2 separate regions of the Homo sapiens genome follow, and region 2 is linked to region 1. The links come from fine-mapping of genetic effects on gene expression. Tissue or cell type: esophagus muscle. Region 1 holds a variant in brackets; the other region holds the start of a gene. All regions are shown on one strand. Distances are from middle to middle.

Region 1 (8,257 bases):
ATCAGAATCCTAGTAGGGCATGGTGGCTTATGGCTATAATCTCAGCACTTTGGGAGGTTGAGGCGGGAGGATCACTTGAGCCCAGGAGTTCAAGACCAGCCCGGGCAACATAGCAAGACCCCATCTCAAAAAATAAATTGATTCATTACAATTTAAATTTTAAAAAAATCAGAATCCTTTGAACAGTTCCAGACCTAAGCCAGTACTTAGACCTAAGCCAGTACTTAGACCTAAAACCAATGACTAGAGGAGAAGCCAAGACCCATGAAGAAAGACTCTGCAACAGTATGACAAACATATTCCAGTAACGATTTCCCTGGTCTTTCTCCTAAAGAACCTATGACCATTACTTAGATCACTATACTCTGGGGGAAAAAAGAATACTTAGATACATTGAAGACTGTTTGGCACAGGATCCATGTTGATGTTGACACCTAGGGATTGAAGCATCATCGTGGCCCCCTGTTAAACTTGAGGGGCATATGATGGACTGGTAATAATAGATTCCTGGATGAGATATGACTTATGGTGTTTCCCACTGGGTCCACAGACCCACTACTATGTGATCATTTCTCCAGTTCCTAAATGTAAAAGTGAAATGTATGTAATTCTTGAATATAAAAGTAGAATGTATATAAGTTCCTGAATATAAAAGAGAAATGTATATAATTGTATAAAATCATGCATGGAGGAGTGGTGGTCTCTCTTAATTTCCCCATGTAATTTATCATCTGACTCCCACAAAAACCAAATAGATCCTAGTGGATGGCAGAGAGACTACTGCAAAATCAACCAAGTAGTAGCCCCAATTGCAGCTGACATGTCCTATGTGGAAAATAACACAGTGACCCACTCTGTGATCATTTCTCCAGTTCCTAAATGTATAAGTGTAATGTACATAATTCCTGAATACAAAAGGGAAATGTATATAGTTGGTCATCGGCACAACTCCCACCCCTACCCCACTAGTTCCTTGGCTTGTGAGGAAAGAGGTGTAAGACCGAGGAGAAGCCCTTAAGCTGCTTCCCACCTTCTGGCCAAAAGCAACATTGCATCCTGGGGAGAAAAAGAAATGCCATCCTTAAAGACCTAATGCATGCAGGGGTGGTGATCGCTCTTCATTTCCCCACATAATTCATCATCAGACCCCTGCAAAAACCAAATGGATCCTAATGGATAGCAATAGACAATTGCAAAATCAACCAAGTAGTAGCCCCAATTGCAGCTGCTGTGTCATATGTGGAAAACAATGCATTCACTTGATATACACTGCATACCTAAGGTTCTGGGTCAGTCATTGTGAATGTCATTTTTCATTACTATCAGGAAAGAGGATCAGACATAGCTCATACTCACAGGGGATAACAAACTGTACACACCTACACTCTTTTCCAAGGCTATATTAACTTTCTTTCCTACTGTCATGACAGCCTTGAGGGACCTGGATCACGTGGACATTTCTCAGAGCACCACATTAGTCCACTATATCTGCATCAATGGCATTCTGTTAGTCAGGCCCTGAAATAGGATTACCTAACCATGGGACATAAAAAGAATGCCCATTATGAGATGGATTCTGTCAGAAACAACAATTCATAATGTATCAATCCGTCATATGATGAAGTAAGATATCTGGGATTGAGCATGAATCAGAGCAAATAAGTAAGCTGCCCAGGCAGGTGGCTCAGTACCCTTCGTCTTTTTCTTTCTTTCTTTCTTTCTTTCTTTCTTTTTTTGAGGAGTCTTGCTCTGTCACCCAGGCAGGAGTGCGGTGGCACAATCTCGGCTCACTGCAACCTCTGCCTCCCAGTTCAAGTGATTCCCCTGCCTCAGCCTCCCAAGTAGCTGGGACTAAAGGCGTGCACCACCACACCTGGTTAATTTTTGTATTTTTAGTAGAAATGAGGTTTCACCATGTAGGTTGGCCAGGCTGGTCTCGATTCCTGACCTTAGGTGGTCTGCCTGCCTCGGCCTCCCAAAGTGCTGGGATTACAGGTGTGAGCCACCATGCCCGGCCTTCAGTACCCTTCTTTATGTCATTTCCACGTTGGAAATTTCCATTTATTTTCCACTATGTCATTTTCCACTCAGCACCTATTTATCAGCCCCCACCTGTGGTCATATGTGGGGTTCTTTAGAAGGAGCTGATACAGCATGTTGCATAGATGGGTCAGTTTAGAATGTGGATGCAAGCCAAAATGGTCTGTGTCTGCACCACAGCCTCACTTAGAGGTGGTCTTGAAAGTGTGAGGTTAATTTCCCCAATGGCACAGCTTCAAGCAGTATACAGTCATCTAGTTTGTATGGAAAAAGAAATAGCCCAGACTGGGTCCGATGGCTCAAGCCTGTAATCCCAGCACTTTAGGACGCTGAGGTGGGAGGATCACGTGAGGCCAAGGAGTTAGAGACCAGCCTGGCCAACATGGCGAAACCCCACTAAAAATACAAAAATTAGCCAGGCGTGGTGGCTCACGCCTGTAATCCCAGCTACTTGGGAGGCTGAGGCAGGAGGATCATTTGATCCCGGGAGATGGAGGCTGCAGTGAGCCAAGATTGCACCACTGCGCTCCAGCACAGGCAACTGAGTGAGTACCTGTCTCAAAAAAGAAAAGAAAAAAAAAGGGAAAAAGAAATAGCCCAAATTAAGAATATACATGTGTAAAAGGACTCGTGGGCAGTCACAAATGCCTTGACTGGTTGGTCAGGGACCTGGATGGAAAACGATGGAAAGATCAGGGAAAATATTTCAGAAGAGGCAGACTGAATGGACATATTATGAGTGTGAGCACAAAGTTTGAAAATCTTTGTTTTTATTTGTCTGTTTTTTGCTCGTAGTGAACATGCCTGTTACAGAGACCAATGCTATGACTCCAAAACAGTGCTTTCTCCTGAGGAAAGTAATCAGTCACTTGATGGCAAGTTAACTAAATTGGACTCCTGACACCATGGAAGGGGCATCAAATATATTGATAAGAACTGACATATATTATGACTATTCATTTGCTTTTTTGCCACAGGGCTTTGACCAGTGCCATTATTTAGGGGCATATGAAGCATGATCACTATATATGAAATATTGCTTAACATCACTTTGGACCAAGGACCCACTTTAAGGCAAAAAAAAAAAAATGTGGCATTGGAACCTGAGTTTGGGATCCAGTGGTCCTATCATAAGCTGCACACCTTTGTCAGCTACTGACATGATAGTTAAGGAGGGACTTTTTGAAA[C/T]CACAGCTGAAGTGCTATCATAGAGTTTATACTCTAGGAAGAAAAGGTGCCATCCTCTAGGATACTGTATATATGCTAAAACAATGATCATTGTATGGTTCTCTATGCCTGTATAGAATGCATTGGTCTGGGAACTATGGGGTCTAAGTAGGGGTGACAAATGTAGGAAAGGTATGTTTCCCATTCTTGCAACTTAAGGATCTATGGATCTAGAGGTCCTGGCTTCCAGAGGGGTGATGCATCTGCCAGGGAATGCCAGAGTTCCATTAAACATTAAGCTACGGCTACTCCCCAGCCACTTTGGTCCCCTCATGCCCAACAGGCAAGGAAGAGAGTCACCACACTGGCAAAAGTTATTGACCGTGATCATCAGAAGTAGGCAGTGCTGTATACAATGCAGGGAGGGGAGATGTATTTGCACCTAGGTGGTCTTTTGGTATTTTCCAGCCCAGTTTTGGTGGTAAATGGGCAAGTACTGTAGCCATGACTCAAGAAGGGCATGGTGACCCAGGGCTCAAGTTCTTCAGGGATGAGTGTCTGTACTGTTCCACCAGCTAAGTCATCTAGACCAGCAGATGTGCTGGCTAAGGGTGAGAGGACCCTAGAATGAGTAGAAGCGGAGAGGGTGAAGAATTTCATTTGAGGCCTCAAAACCACCTGCAACTGCCAGAGACCTTAGTTTAATCCCATTAACTTTACTCTTATAAGCTTTCTCAGGAAAAAATAACCAGGATCCTGGAGTAGGTATTCCCACATGGGGTGAATTTTCTATATAAACAAAATGGATCTGGGCAGCACACGGTTGGGCCATACAGTGGCTATGCAGGTGGTGCACAAAATTCAGGCACTCATTCCCCACTTGCCAAGAGTGTTGGTTGCTGTCAGCTCAGTTTTTCCTCTCCCTTGGCTGGCCTTGGCTGAAGGAAACCACCATGCTCCATCCAGATGGTTATGCTCCATCTTCTAGGGCCAACTTTTTTCCAATAACTGTGCATGGGAACAAAGGCCCAAGTCTATTACCTAAATAGGGACAACTCTAAAAGGTCATCCCTGCTCCAGGGATCCCCAGAGAATCACATTGTACATCAGCTCTATTCTCTGAAGTTCGACTTCTCCCTCTGCCCAATACTGACCCCCAACTCCCTTCCAGATATTGTTCCCAAGACCATTCCCAACAAACTTCTGCATACAAGCCTCCATCTCAGAAACTGTCTCCTGAGGAAATTCACCTAAGACACATTGGCTCAAACTGGAAAGGAGTAATATTTCCTGACAAAAATTCACTTATTTTTGTCAGTCACTCTATTCACAGAGAAAGTCAACTGCATGAACACTATAGACATGATTTTTTCTACATGTATTCAAATAAATGAATGAACACTACTTTTCAACAAAATGATAAGACTATCATTGCCATTGTATTAGATCATTTGATTAATAAATGTTTCCTCTATAACAGATTCAGATATATTCCTACATTTTTACTGGTTTTCTTTAAAACCAAAACTTTGGTTTTCTATTGTAAATATACTTACTGGTCCTTATTGCTGCTGTTGTTCACATTAAAAAGTGCAATGGCACCAGGCAGGTACTGCTCCCTGGGAAATGAAAAACATGCAGTGAAATCACAGTAGTCACCATCTGTATAATGTCCATGGTAGGCAAATGGTCTGAAAAAACAAATTCTTCTCCATTTCTACTCATTACTAAAGACTATGTAGATGATAGATATTTCAAAAACATATTATGAAGCATAAAGCATAAAAGTATATCCTGAGCCTCCATGAAGCATGACTTGCCAAATGCCAGTGTCTTGAACAAACATAGTGATATGGTTTGGCTGTGTCCCCACCCAAATCTCATCTTGAATTATAGCTCCCATAATCCCCACATGCCACGGGAGGGACCCAGTGGGAAGTAATTGAATCATAGGGGTGGGTGTTGCCCATGCCATTCTCGTGCTAGTAAATAAGTCTCACAAGATCTGATGGTTTTATAAAGGGCAGTTCCCCTGCACATGCTCTCTTGCCTGCCACCATGTAAGACATGACTTTGCTCCTCCTTTGCCTTCTGCCATGATTGTGAGGCCTCCCCAGCCATGTGGAACTGTGAGTCCAGTAAGCCTCTTTTTCTTTATAAATTAACCAGTCTCGGGTATTTCTTCATAACATTATGAAAATGGACATGGTTAGTAAATGCATATCAGTCAATGTTCATACCAAGAATTAGCTTAAGTGAACCAACCTCAATGCCAGTAACTCCCAACAAGAAACCTAAGACTGTTAGGGAAAGTAAGATGAGGAGAAAAGCTAAATAAAAACAATGGGAAGGCTGGAGGTAGTCAATGGGAAGAAAAATAAGAAAAAGGAAAAAAAAGTAAAGAAAGAGTAATTATGTAAAACAGGTGGAAACCCCAGCTCCAACACCAATACCACACCACACCCCTTCTGCAATCTCAAGTCCGGTATCTGAAGTTTTCACAACTTCTTTATTTCCTACTAAGGATATTTTTGCTTTTCTCTTCTAGCACCTCTCTCCAGTGCTCTATTTCCTAAAAGTAGGACCAAAAGGGATGGAGCATTTTAGAGAATAACAGCCAACCCTCTCACATGTACTTGCTTCAGGACCCTGAAAGAAGGATCAGAGAGAAACAAGAAATCAGAAAGGACTGGGTTTCTTAAGGGACAGACCCCAGTGGGTCTCAGGGAAAATGAAGCAAGAGTGTTTACAACTTGGAACGCCATGGCCATAAATAATCATCGGGCAGTGGCAATATTTCCCAAGAGACGGCATGGGTAAGGAACAGAAGTAATTCCTCCTGAGATCCCACATTGTGTGTAGATAGCAGAGGCATTTGCCGAGCTTGCTCCGAAACAACAGTTTACAAACCCATTTATGCCTAGTGTTTGATTATTGGAACGCTAAGCATGTGGGAGTTATTTCTATCCTACTGCTCAAGGTCATCACCATGATCTGATTGCAAAAATTCAAAACACTGCAACCTTAAGCATAAATGGTTAAAAACAAGCACCAAGGGATGGATCATACTGCTCACCTCTGTGATGGTCCTCCCTTTCTGAGTGACTTATAACTAAAGGAACCCCTTGCATGAGGGTTTTCATTCTCTGATTCTTCAGATGTAGAGGCACTGTCATCATCCTCAGAAAAGGAGCTACAGTCCAATAGGAGGCAGAGAGAGAAGAGTTAATGTTTTCAACCACTGCAGAGAGGCAACATTCCTCACTAGGGGGACAATTGCCTCACCTCTTTTCCTTCCCTCTCAAACTAACACACATAACAATTTTTAGTTAGCATAAAGTTAGAACTATACAAAATACATAGAATTATATAAAATATGTGCATAATTCAGTAAAATGCATTTAACTAAGAAACTAGTTTCTAGGTTTTCCACATTCCTATTGTTTGATGCATTGGTTGATGTTAATATTTATCAAATAGCAAGTGTGATATCTGGGACTTAGATCATATTATACCTTTGTGTGAACTAGTTTTCTAACTAATGTTTCGTCCCACTAAAAGTAAATTCAACCACATTCATATACATTATATTCATTTATAGGGTAAGCACTTTAAATTATACTTTTAAATCACATTGCTAGCATTTCATACTCTGAGTACTTTTCATATGTATCTATGGCAATGTCATCTCTTTAGATTCAAAATGTCACTTGAGGAAAAGCCCTGCCATTGACTAAAGAAATGTTTGGCATAGGTGCTTAATAGATGCTTCCAAAAAAGTGACCACAATAATATCTATGTTCAGGCTGGGCATGGTGGCTCATGCCTGTAATCCCAACACTTTGGGAGGCCGAGGCAGGCAGATCACTTGAGGTCAGGAGTTCGTGACCAGCCTGGCCAATATGGCAAAACCCTGTCTCTACTAAAAATACAAAAAAAAAATTAGCCTGGTGTGGTGGTGCACACATGTAGTCCCAGCTACCTGGGAGGCTGAGGCAAGAGAATCACTTGAACCCAGAAGGCAGAGGTTGCAGTGAGCTGAGATTGTGCCACTGCGTTCCAGCCTGTGCAACAGAGTGAGACTCCATCTCAAAATAAATAAATAAATAAATAAATAAATAAATAAATAAATAAAATCTATGTTCATTTGTTAGACAAGTTATGCAGTTCCAAAGTGTAAATAAATTTGCTAAATACATTACAAAGTTCAAGGTTACAAATTATAAAGCTAAATTGAAATTAAATCTAGTTAAATTAAAGAACTGTAGCTAATAATAAAAATGCATGGGAAAATGTTTGGATTTACCTGCATGCTCCATTTTCCATCCTTCGTATTTCCTTTTCAATATCTGGTACAATCACATTGGGCATGGTTACAAAAGACTGCTGTGTATTGATAATATTGTTCTTCATGGATAGTTTCATATCTGAGGAGAAAGAAGTCTTATTAGTGGAAAGGCTATTTTTATATATTTACATATATAATCAAAAGTTTCACCCTATGTATTAGTCTGTCCTCATGCTGCTAATAAAGACATACCTGAGACTGGGTAATTTATAAAGGAAAGAGGTTTAATGGACTTGTAGCTCCACATGGCTAGGGGGAGCCTCACAATCATGGCAGAAAGCAAAGGAGAAGCAAAGACACATCTTACATGGCAGCAGGCAAGAGAGCTTGTGCAGCAGAACTCCCCTTTATAAAACCATCAGATCTCATGAGACTTATTCACTATCATGAGACTAGCATGGGAAAAACTCACTCCCATGATTCCACTGCCTCCCACTGAGTTCCTCCCATGACACATAGGGATTATGGGAGCCGCACTTTAAGATGAAGTTTGGGTGGGTACACAGCCAAACCATATCAACCCTACCATTTTTCTAAGACTATATAATACCATCTGTTTGCAGTTTTACATAGGAATTATTCTTTAATAGAATGCAGGCATGGCCTGTTCCCCTAATTTCCATTGACCAGTTTTTTGTAAAAAAATTTTTAATTTAAGAATGTACCAGACTTATAAAACATTTATAAATTTGGATTTATCCC
Region 2 (8,000 bases), 68 kb after region 1:
GATAACTGAGTGCTCTAATGGTAAGGAGAAATTAAGACCAGTTGGTCGTTAATCTTAACTTTAACCAAGACAAACCCCAATTCAGTTACTTACCTAGGGACGAGTCTCTGGCTATAGACTGCTCTCTACCATTCAAGAAGCAGGAAAAACAAAACAAAACAAAAAAAAAAACACTCCTTTTCCCTGTTGGAAGTGAGCCAAACTCCAACGTCATGGAAACAGAAAATTTGTCTTTCTTGATAGAAGCAAGTAAAACTCCAAAAAAGAGAAGTTGTACAGCAAAATAAACTTTAGATCTTGACCAAATTTGGGGAAATCAGGGATTCTCTGGAGGGGGTGCTCTCAGACCTCAGCAAATTGTCCTATTGGTTTGAGCTGTAAAATTAGCTCATGCTGGTACCAAGCACTGATAAGAGGTTTGCCAAAGGTCAGGGGCATCTCCACTCAGAATCCCTCTGTGGTTACCAAAATGTGAACCCCAAAAATTTGAGACAGGTCTCAGTGAATTTACAGTTTATTTTGCCAAGGTTGATAACACAACCCCATGACACAGCCTCAGGAGGTCCTGATGACATGTGCCCAAGGTGGTCAGAGCACAGTTGGGTTTTATACATTCTAGGGACACATGAGACATCAATCAACATATGCAAGATGAACATTGGTTCTGTCTGGAAAGACGGGACAACTCAAAGCAAAGGCAGGAATACTGGAACCAGGGACGGGGCTTTCCAGGTCATAGGTAGATAAGAGACAAATGGTTGCATTATTTTGAGTTTCTGACTAGCCTCTCCAAAGGAGGCGATCAGATATGTCAGTGAGCAGAGGTGTGAGTTTGAATAGAATGGGAGGCAGGTTGGCCCTAAGCAGTTCCAAGCTTCACTTTTCCCTTTAGCTTAGTGATTTGGGGGCTCCACTATTGATTTTCTTTCACAACTCAATAACCCAGGAATAATTAAGGGAAAGGCAAGATGGAGGATGAATTACTCAGCTTACTGTTAAAATTTTCTCAGTGATATAATTTTTGCAAAGGTGGTTTCTACTCCCCAGCTACCACCCCTCTTGTCTAGTCATCTTATTCCTTGCCCCAGAAACCACAGACCTCCCTACAATGTAGCAACTCAGGGGTTAACCTTGACACACCAGGAACCCTCCCAGACCTCCCCAAGCTCGAAAGACCTGTGGCCTTGTCCCTTGAGGCCCTAAGGCTCTACTAATCATTATTTATTTTGACCATCACCCCTGGGTCTAAGTGTCCTAGCACAAAGACCAATAAAACAGAAGTTGGCATTTTAGAGGGTCTCAGTTATTATCGCATTCTAATTTTTGAGTCAGAAGAGTAATTTTCCTAGAATCAAAGAATGGGCTAGTTGGAGATTTTTTTAATGCTCTTCTTTTAGTTAAACAAACAACATGATTTTGCGGGGGAATAAATATCCCCCAACTTTATGTCATTAAAGACAGTGTGTGGTACTATAACGGTATTCCCCAAAGTCATCTAGAAATTATCAATGAAGGAAAATACATATTATAAATTTCTGCTAGGCAACATTTAAACTGGAAAAGCAGTGGTCTTAAATGAGTTTAAATATTTTTTTTCTGAATTTTTTCTCTTTATTTTCAGAATTGAAAAGCAAGAACTACAACAAAATGCCTCTTACCTAAAGTAGACCTTAATATGCAACTGAAATTCAATAAAGATACATTTTTTAAAGTCTGTTTTGTTTTTTAATGTCCAATTACCAAATGGGTTAAGAGCACATACTTGAAGCCCAGCTTTCTTGGTTAGCATCTTGGTTCCACACTTACTGGTTATGTGTGCATAGGCCAGTTACTCAATCTTTGTGTGCCTCCATTTCCTCAGCTGTAAAGTGGGGGTAGTAGTATCTACCTTACAGGATTTTCATGAAGATTTATAAAGCAAATATTTACAAAGAGATTAGAATAGTGCTTGCCACATAGTAAATGCTATCCAAGTGTTTGTTAAATAAAAAATAAGCACCATAGATCACGTTTACCATCATTACTAATTTTTGATAAAGACAAAATTTTAAGTTGGAAATCCAAAGAAAACGTTTAAATAGAAGTCTAAGTTTTGGGCCGGGCTAGGTGGCTCACGCCTGTAATCCCAGCCCTTTGGGAGGCCGAGGTAGGCGGATCACGAGGTCAGGAGATTGAGAGCATGCTGGTTAACACGGTGAAACCCCATCTCTACTAAAAAAAAAAATACAAAAAATTAGCCGGGCGTGGTGGGGGGCGCCTGTAGTCCCAGCTACTCGGGAGGCTGAGGCAGGAGAATGGCGTGAACCCAGGAGGCGGAGCTTGCAGTGAGCCGAGATCGCGCCACTGCACTCCAGCCTGGGCGACAGAGCGAGACTCCGTCTCAAAAAAAACCAAACCAAGCCAAACAAACAAACAAGCAAACAAAAAGAAGTCTAAGTTTTAAGGCTTGTTATGGAAAATTGGCATAAATCTCCCTCGCTTTCAACTTTCACCTATTCCACTCTCCGTGGTGTTCCTTCTCTGCAAAGTCATCCATATGTATTATAAAAGTGGGTGCCTTGGACTGGTATGTTGACTAATTTGTTCTTAGCTCTTCTCTCATCCGCCTAAGAACAAGAAAAACAAGATTGAGGCCTCTGCTATGAAACTCTTAGGTAATAAAATTAATAGCACTGTTCATGCCTACTTAGAACAAAGGCTACCTGAGTACATGAGAATATTTTCCTCAGTGTTAAAATGCCAGAGCACAAAGGCACCCCAGTTCTCCCTGGTGAGGGTTTGAGCCCGAATTGTTCACTACCCCACCCCTCACCTTTTTTTTTCTTGAGACAGGGTCTCACTCTGTTGCCTGGACTAGAGTGCAGTGGTTCGATCATGTCTCACTGTAGCCTCCACCTCCTGGGCTCAAGTCATCCGTCCTCCCACCTCAGCCTCCTGAGTAGCTGAGACTACAGGAGTACACCACCACATCTGGCTAATTTTTGTAGAGACAGGGTTTCACCATGATGCCCAGGCTAGTCTCGAACTTGTGGACTCAAGAGAGCCACTCGCCTCAACCTCCCAAAGTGCTGTGATTACAGGGGTGAGCCACCCGCCAGCCCTGCCCACTCCTTGTTTTGTAAATACCTGCTATCAGGTCTTCCAACCTTGGTTTGGTTACTTAACCTCACTCTTTGCCTCTAATCCCTCATCTGTAAACTGAGCGTTAATAGACTGCTGTGAGATTTAATTAATACATAATGTGCCTGCATATGTATGGTATAACAAGGATATCATAAACATTAGTTATTAATAATTCGTGGAAATAAGTCTTTCCAGTTTTGGCATTGCTTTTCCCTTAAAGGTTTATTTCAAATACCCCTATGACCCAGAAAATGGGGCAGGGTAGGGGGAGTTGCCTGCTGGAGACAGAACGGAGAGTGGATGGATATAGCGGGCGTGGACGGACAGCGACAGAAGCTGATAACAGCACAGAAGGGCAAAGTCTGCTCAGCAGCCCCCAAAATAAACTTGAGCCTGGCAATCGGCGCAGAACCCCAGCAGTCAGCAGCTTCGGTGCAAAGCAACTAACACCTGAAGGCTTCCAAAAGCAGCAGGGCTCTCTCTAGCGGGGGAGCCTTTTCGACCAGAGAGGAGCCAGAAGGGGGCCTCAGTGCAGCCTCCACTCCACTCAATTCCCGGAGTTACCTTGGCGGGCTCCACGCTCCGAGAGACGCTGTTGCTCTATGAGGCGTGTCTGTGTTTCTCTAGTTCGCGGCTCCAGCAGTCGCGCCAAGGGGCAGCTGCTACTCCTGCCAGATACACCAGTTATCACAGGCCGCTCCCAGGCCTGCGGGGGCCCTGAGAATTCGCAACAAGCCCCGGGCAGCAGGGCTCGGCTGGCGCTGAGGCCCCGCCTGGCCATGCCCATTGGCGGAGGCTGCCCCGGGGGCGGGGTCAGGGCGCCCCATTCCCAGACCCCGCAGCCCCGCCCGCCGCGGGTGCGTGTGGAGAGGCCCAGGTGAGGAGCAAGCGCCCGCGTTCCGGAAGCCCGCTCCCGGGGCCATGGGGGCACAGGTGAGGCTGCCGCCCGGAGAGCCCTGCCGAGAAGGTTTGTGTCTGCCCTGAGCCGAGGGACCTGGCAGCTGGGTGGCGAAGAGACCGGGTGGGCGGTCCCCGGACACTTGCGGAGACTGGAAAGGGGGGCTGTACCGACTCTAAACGTAGTCGTTCACTCATTCATTCATTCAGTCAGTCGGCCGTCCAGCCAGGCGTTCAACACTTATTTATGGGTGCCTAGGCGATTCGGGCTGTGCTGGAAAACCTGAGTGGAATAAGGCAGGTGGGACTCCCACTCGATTCGCGAGGCCGACCAGTGTAAATTACCGCGTGCTGCGTGTGGGACGGGGAAACTCAGGATGCTATGGGAAGAATCCCGAGTCCCTCTGAGAAGGACGTTTCCTCTGACTCAGGCTCCCTTCCAGAGTCTGCGGCCGACGTCACCCGGTGGGCAGAGGGCGTGTCTGCCTGGGGGGCCCGTGGGAGTTCTGCGCTGCGCCCTGCGCTGGCTCCCGGGGATCGAGCACCGCGAGAGGTTGGGCGCCCGGGGCCGCGGGGGTGGGCGTTGGGCAAGTCTGGGCCGCCCACGTCTCTCCTCTTCCTTGGAAATGAAAAGGTCTCCAAACCCATGAGCCTGTCTGACTCGCTGTGCAGTCACTCTGGCTGCTTAAGGCGAGAGCCGTACTGGAGAGGAAACCTGGAACCGGGAGCACTCGTTTGCAGGCTCTTCTTACTGCTTCTCACCTGAGCCCCGTGAAATCTCTGGGCGAGGCTCCTTGCCCTTCGCCAAGTGTTCGCAACACTGGCGGGTTTTCTGCAGTCTCCATACAGAAGGCCCCGATAAAAGTAGGGAAGGGGGTAGGGGGAGCGACTGGAAGGATGTAGATACATTGAAATGATGGTTTTCGCCGTACCAAGGGGAAAGCAGCTTTTTAATTTACCTGATAATGCAGTAAAGGGGAAGGGAGGCAGTGAAAGGCATGGTAAGAACTACTATATATATACACATATATATATAGTTCCCTTACACATATATATATATATATATGTATATACATATACACCTTTGCAAAGGTGCTCGCAACTTCCCTAGTTTCCTCTCCTCTTGACTCTTCCAGCTTATTCCTTTTTAACAAGTGAGCTCGTCCAAACCATGCTAGCAAGGAAGAGAAGGGACACCAAAAAAAGGAGAAAAATGCCTGAACAATTCACAAGCTATTAAAAAAAATTTTTTAAGGCCGCTGGATCTAGAATTATTTTCTAGTCTTTTTTTCTGAAAAAGAGCAATAACGCCTGAACAACTCACAAACTATTAAAAAACAAAAATTTTAAGGCAGCTGAATCTAGAATTATTTCCTAGAGAGTCAGGTTGTGTGCCCTTTTTCTAAATAATTTCTAACCCAGCAAATCTGACAGTTACTAACACACCCACACTTGTTTACCCAAGGATCTGTAAGTAAGGAAGGTATATGAATTACACCCACTTGTTTGAGCTTCTGGATGTTTTTCCTGCTTTGCTTATGCATTGAGTTCCAACAAGAAACATTTAAGCTCCAGGCTTAATACCTGTGATTAACCATGGTAATTAATTGTGTGAAAAGCTGGTGAGAAAGACTTAGAAATCTGAATGCACGTTATTAGTAGTGGGAAGAGATTAGGCTTTGGCATCAGACAGTCTGAGCTGTAACTTAGCTTCCTTGAGCATTTTCCTGTCTATAAATTGGGGGTCATCCCTCCAGTTTACAGTTCTGAAGAGTAGGTGCAGGTGGGATTACATATGAACTACACCACTCAGAGCTTGACATGGAGTAAACAAAGACTCAATTTTTCACTTGTTCATTCAAATAACAAGAGTCCCATGTGCCAAGCACTGGCATAGGTGCTGGGATAGAGGGATCTGCAAGACAGTCTGGTCCCAGACTCTAGGACTAGGTTCCTGCTCTCAGGCACCTTACTGTTCAGATGGCAGCTACTATGCAAGAAACAAAGTAATTTAAAAGATCATTATAATAGCAGTAATGTATCAAGAGTGTTGGGATGTTTAGATTGGGTATTCAATGAAAGCCCCTTACGAAAGTGATATTCAAGCTGAGACCCAAATGACAAGGGGTCAGTCATGAGATCTGAAGATAGAACATTCCAGTTGAACTTCCATGAAGAAAAAGTTAATTTCATACTTTGGTTTTGACTTTTTTTTGTTTTTTTGAGGCGGAGTGCCACTCCGTCACCCAGGATGGCATGCAGTGGTGCAATTTCAGCTCACTGCAACTTCCACCTGGGTTCAAGCAATTCTCCTGCCTCAGCCTCTCAAGTAGCTGGGAATACAGGCACATGCCACCATGCCCAGCTAATTTTTGTATTTTTAATACGGGTTTCACTGTGTTGACCAGGCTGGTCTTGAACTCCTGACTTCAAGTGATACTCCTACCTTGGCATCCCAAAGTGCTGGGTTTACAGGCATGAGCCATCCCCCACCCCACATTGGTTTTGACTTTTAAAGCTATAGATGCTTCAAAAGAGTCTCTAATCCAAAATTATCTTTAAAAGAAACAAATGCAAATATGTATGAAGGTTGTTATAAAGCTGTAATTAAGCCATATGAGGAAGTCTATTTGATTGGGAACATATGATGGAAAGTGACTGAGAGGTTCCTTTAGATTGGGAAGGCAGGAAAGGCCTCTCTGAGTTGCTTAGTCCTCTCACTCAGAAGAAGCTAGCTATGCCAGCCAGCACTCTGTAACAGGCTCAGGAACAGCTGCTTTTTAAAAAGCTTAAGGTGAGAAGGAACTTATTCTATGAAAGGAACAGAAGAAAAGGCAATAGTAGGGAATGAGGTTAGGCAGCTGGAGACAGGATTCCACAGGGCCTTATAGGCTATAGTGGGAATTTTGGATTTTTTTCGGAATGAGAAGGGAAGCCCTTGTGGAGTTTTGGAAGGAGGAATGACAAGATCAGACCTACTTGTCTAAAGGTTCATTTCACCTGATCCTTCTCCCACCTACTCTTTAGCCACATCTCATACCATCTCCCTTTCTGTCACCCCAGGCAACCTGGCTGACTGCAGTTTCTTCAACCCCTCAGGGTTTCTGCTTTTAGACTTAGCAGAGAGGCTCTTTTGTTTAATCCTGTTTTAAAAAATATATTCCTTGATGCTGCTTTTACTACTTGCTATGGCACTCTTAACATACGTATAGTTATTTGTTTGTTAATCCTATCTGCCCCCACTGGAATATAAGAGAGCGGGACCATTGTTGTATTCATTTTTCTATCTCCAGATTCTAGAAAATGCCCAACAGGTAGTACACCATACATATTTGTTGAATGAAGGAAAAGAAGATTAGTGTTTCAGAGAGGGGTGAGAGGGAGAGTAATGCAATATGATGTCAGAGACGAGCCAGTTTCAGAGCATGAGAAGCTTTAAAGTTCAAAGTTAGTGAGGAGTTGAGATTTTGTTGTAAGTTGAGATGAAAAACCATGACAGGGGACAGGGAGTATTAAGCCAGGGAGTGATATAACCTACTTCCCACTGGTTAGCGTTTGGAGAATAAATTGTAACAGATATAAAGAGATTTCATTCAGTCATTCCCATGCTAATATGAATAGGCAGGTATATCACATATTCTTGCTTAGGTTTCTAGGTCAGCTGAAGGTTGACTGATCTAGATGGGGCTCACCTATATGTCTCTGCTTCAGGCTAATGTCCACCTGGGTTTGGCTCCTTCATGTGGGATGAGCTCAGATCTGCTCCATGTGTCTTCATTTGGGTGCAGAGGCTGAAGGGACAGCAGCTCCTCAGGGAATTACAGAGATGCAAATGAGTAAACCCAACCACATAAGCATCTTTGAAATCTAGCTTCATATCACTTCTGCTGACTTCCCATTGGCCACCAACTTACTTCCAGCCCAACATCAGGTGAAGCACCTTTGCCCACATTGGGAAAGGTAAGGGGCTGAATACTGAA

The links. PIP is the estimated chance that this variant, and not a neighbour inherited with it, causes the effect.
Region 2: it holds the start of CNGA1, and the variant in region 1 is fine-mapped to the expression of CNGA1 in esophagus muscle (GTEx, PIP above 0.99). The same link has a PIP of 0.9 or more in aorta, breast, lung, sigmoid colon, subcutaneous fat and sun-exposed skin.

The regions. Positions count from the first base shown.
Region 1 is chr4:47,945,070-47,953,326 of GRCh38, forward strand. It overlaps CNGA1 (cyclic nucleotide gated channel subunit alpha 1), which reads right to left. Exons shown (of 11, transcript NM_001379270.1): 4 at 7,514-7,634; 5 at 6,284-6,400; 6 at 4,764-4,826. The coding sequence starts at 7,620. The region is part of intron 1 of LOC101927157 (a long non-coding RNA gene); the gene reads left to right. Among named protein-coding and RNA genes, the nearest start is that of NFXL1, 35 kb to the left of the region's middle. The variant C/T (reference allele first, on the strand shown) is at 3,229.
Region 2 is chr4:48,012,796-48,020,795 of GRCh38, forward strand. CNGA1 (cyclic nucleotide gated channel subunit alpha 1) reads right to left here and starts at 3,886. Exons shown (of 11, transcript NM_001379270.1): 1 at 3,688-3,886. NIPAL1 (NIPA like domain containing 1) reads left to right here and starts at 3,977. Exons shown (of 6, transcript NM_207330.3): 1 at 3,977-4,090. The coding sequence starts at 4,045. RefSeq lists an enhancer at 3,567-4,068 and silencers at 3,833-4,162, 4,453-4,612.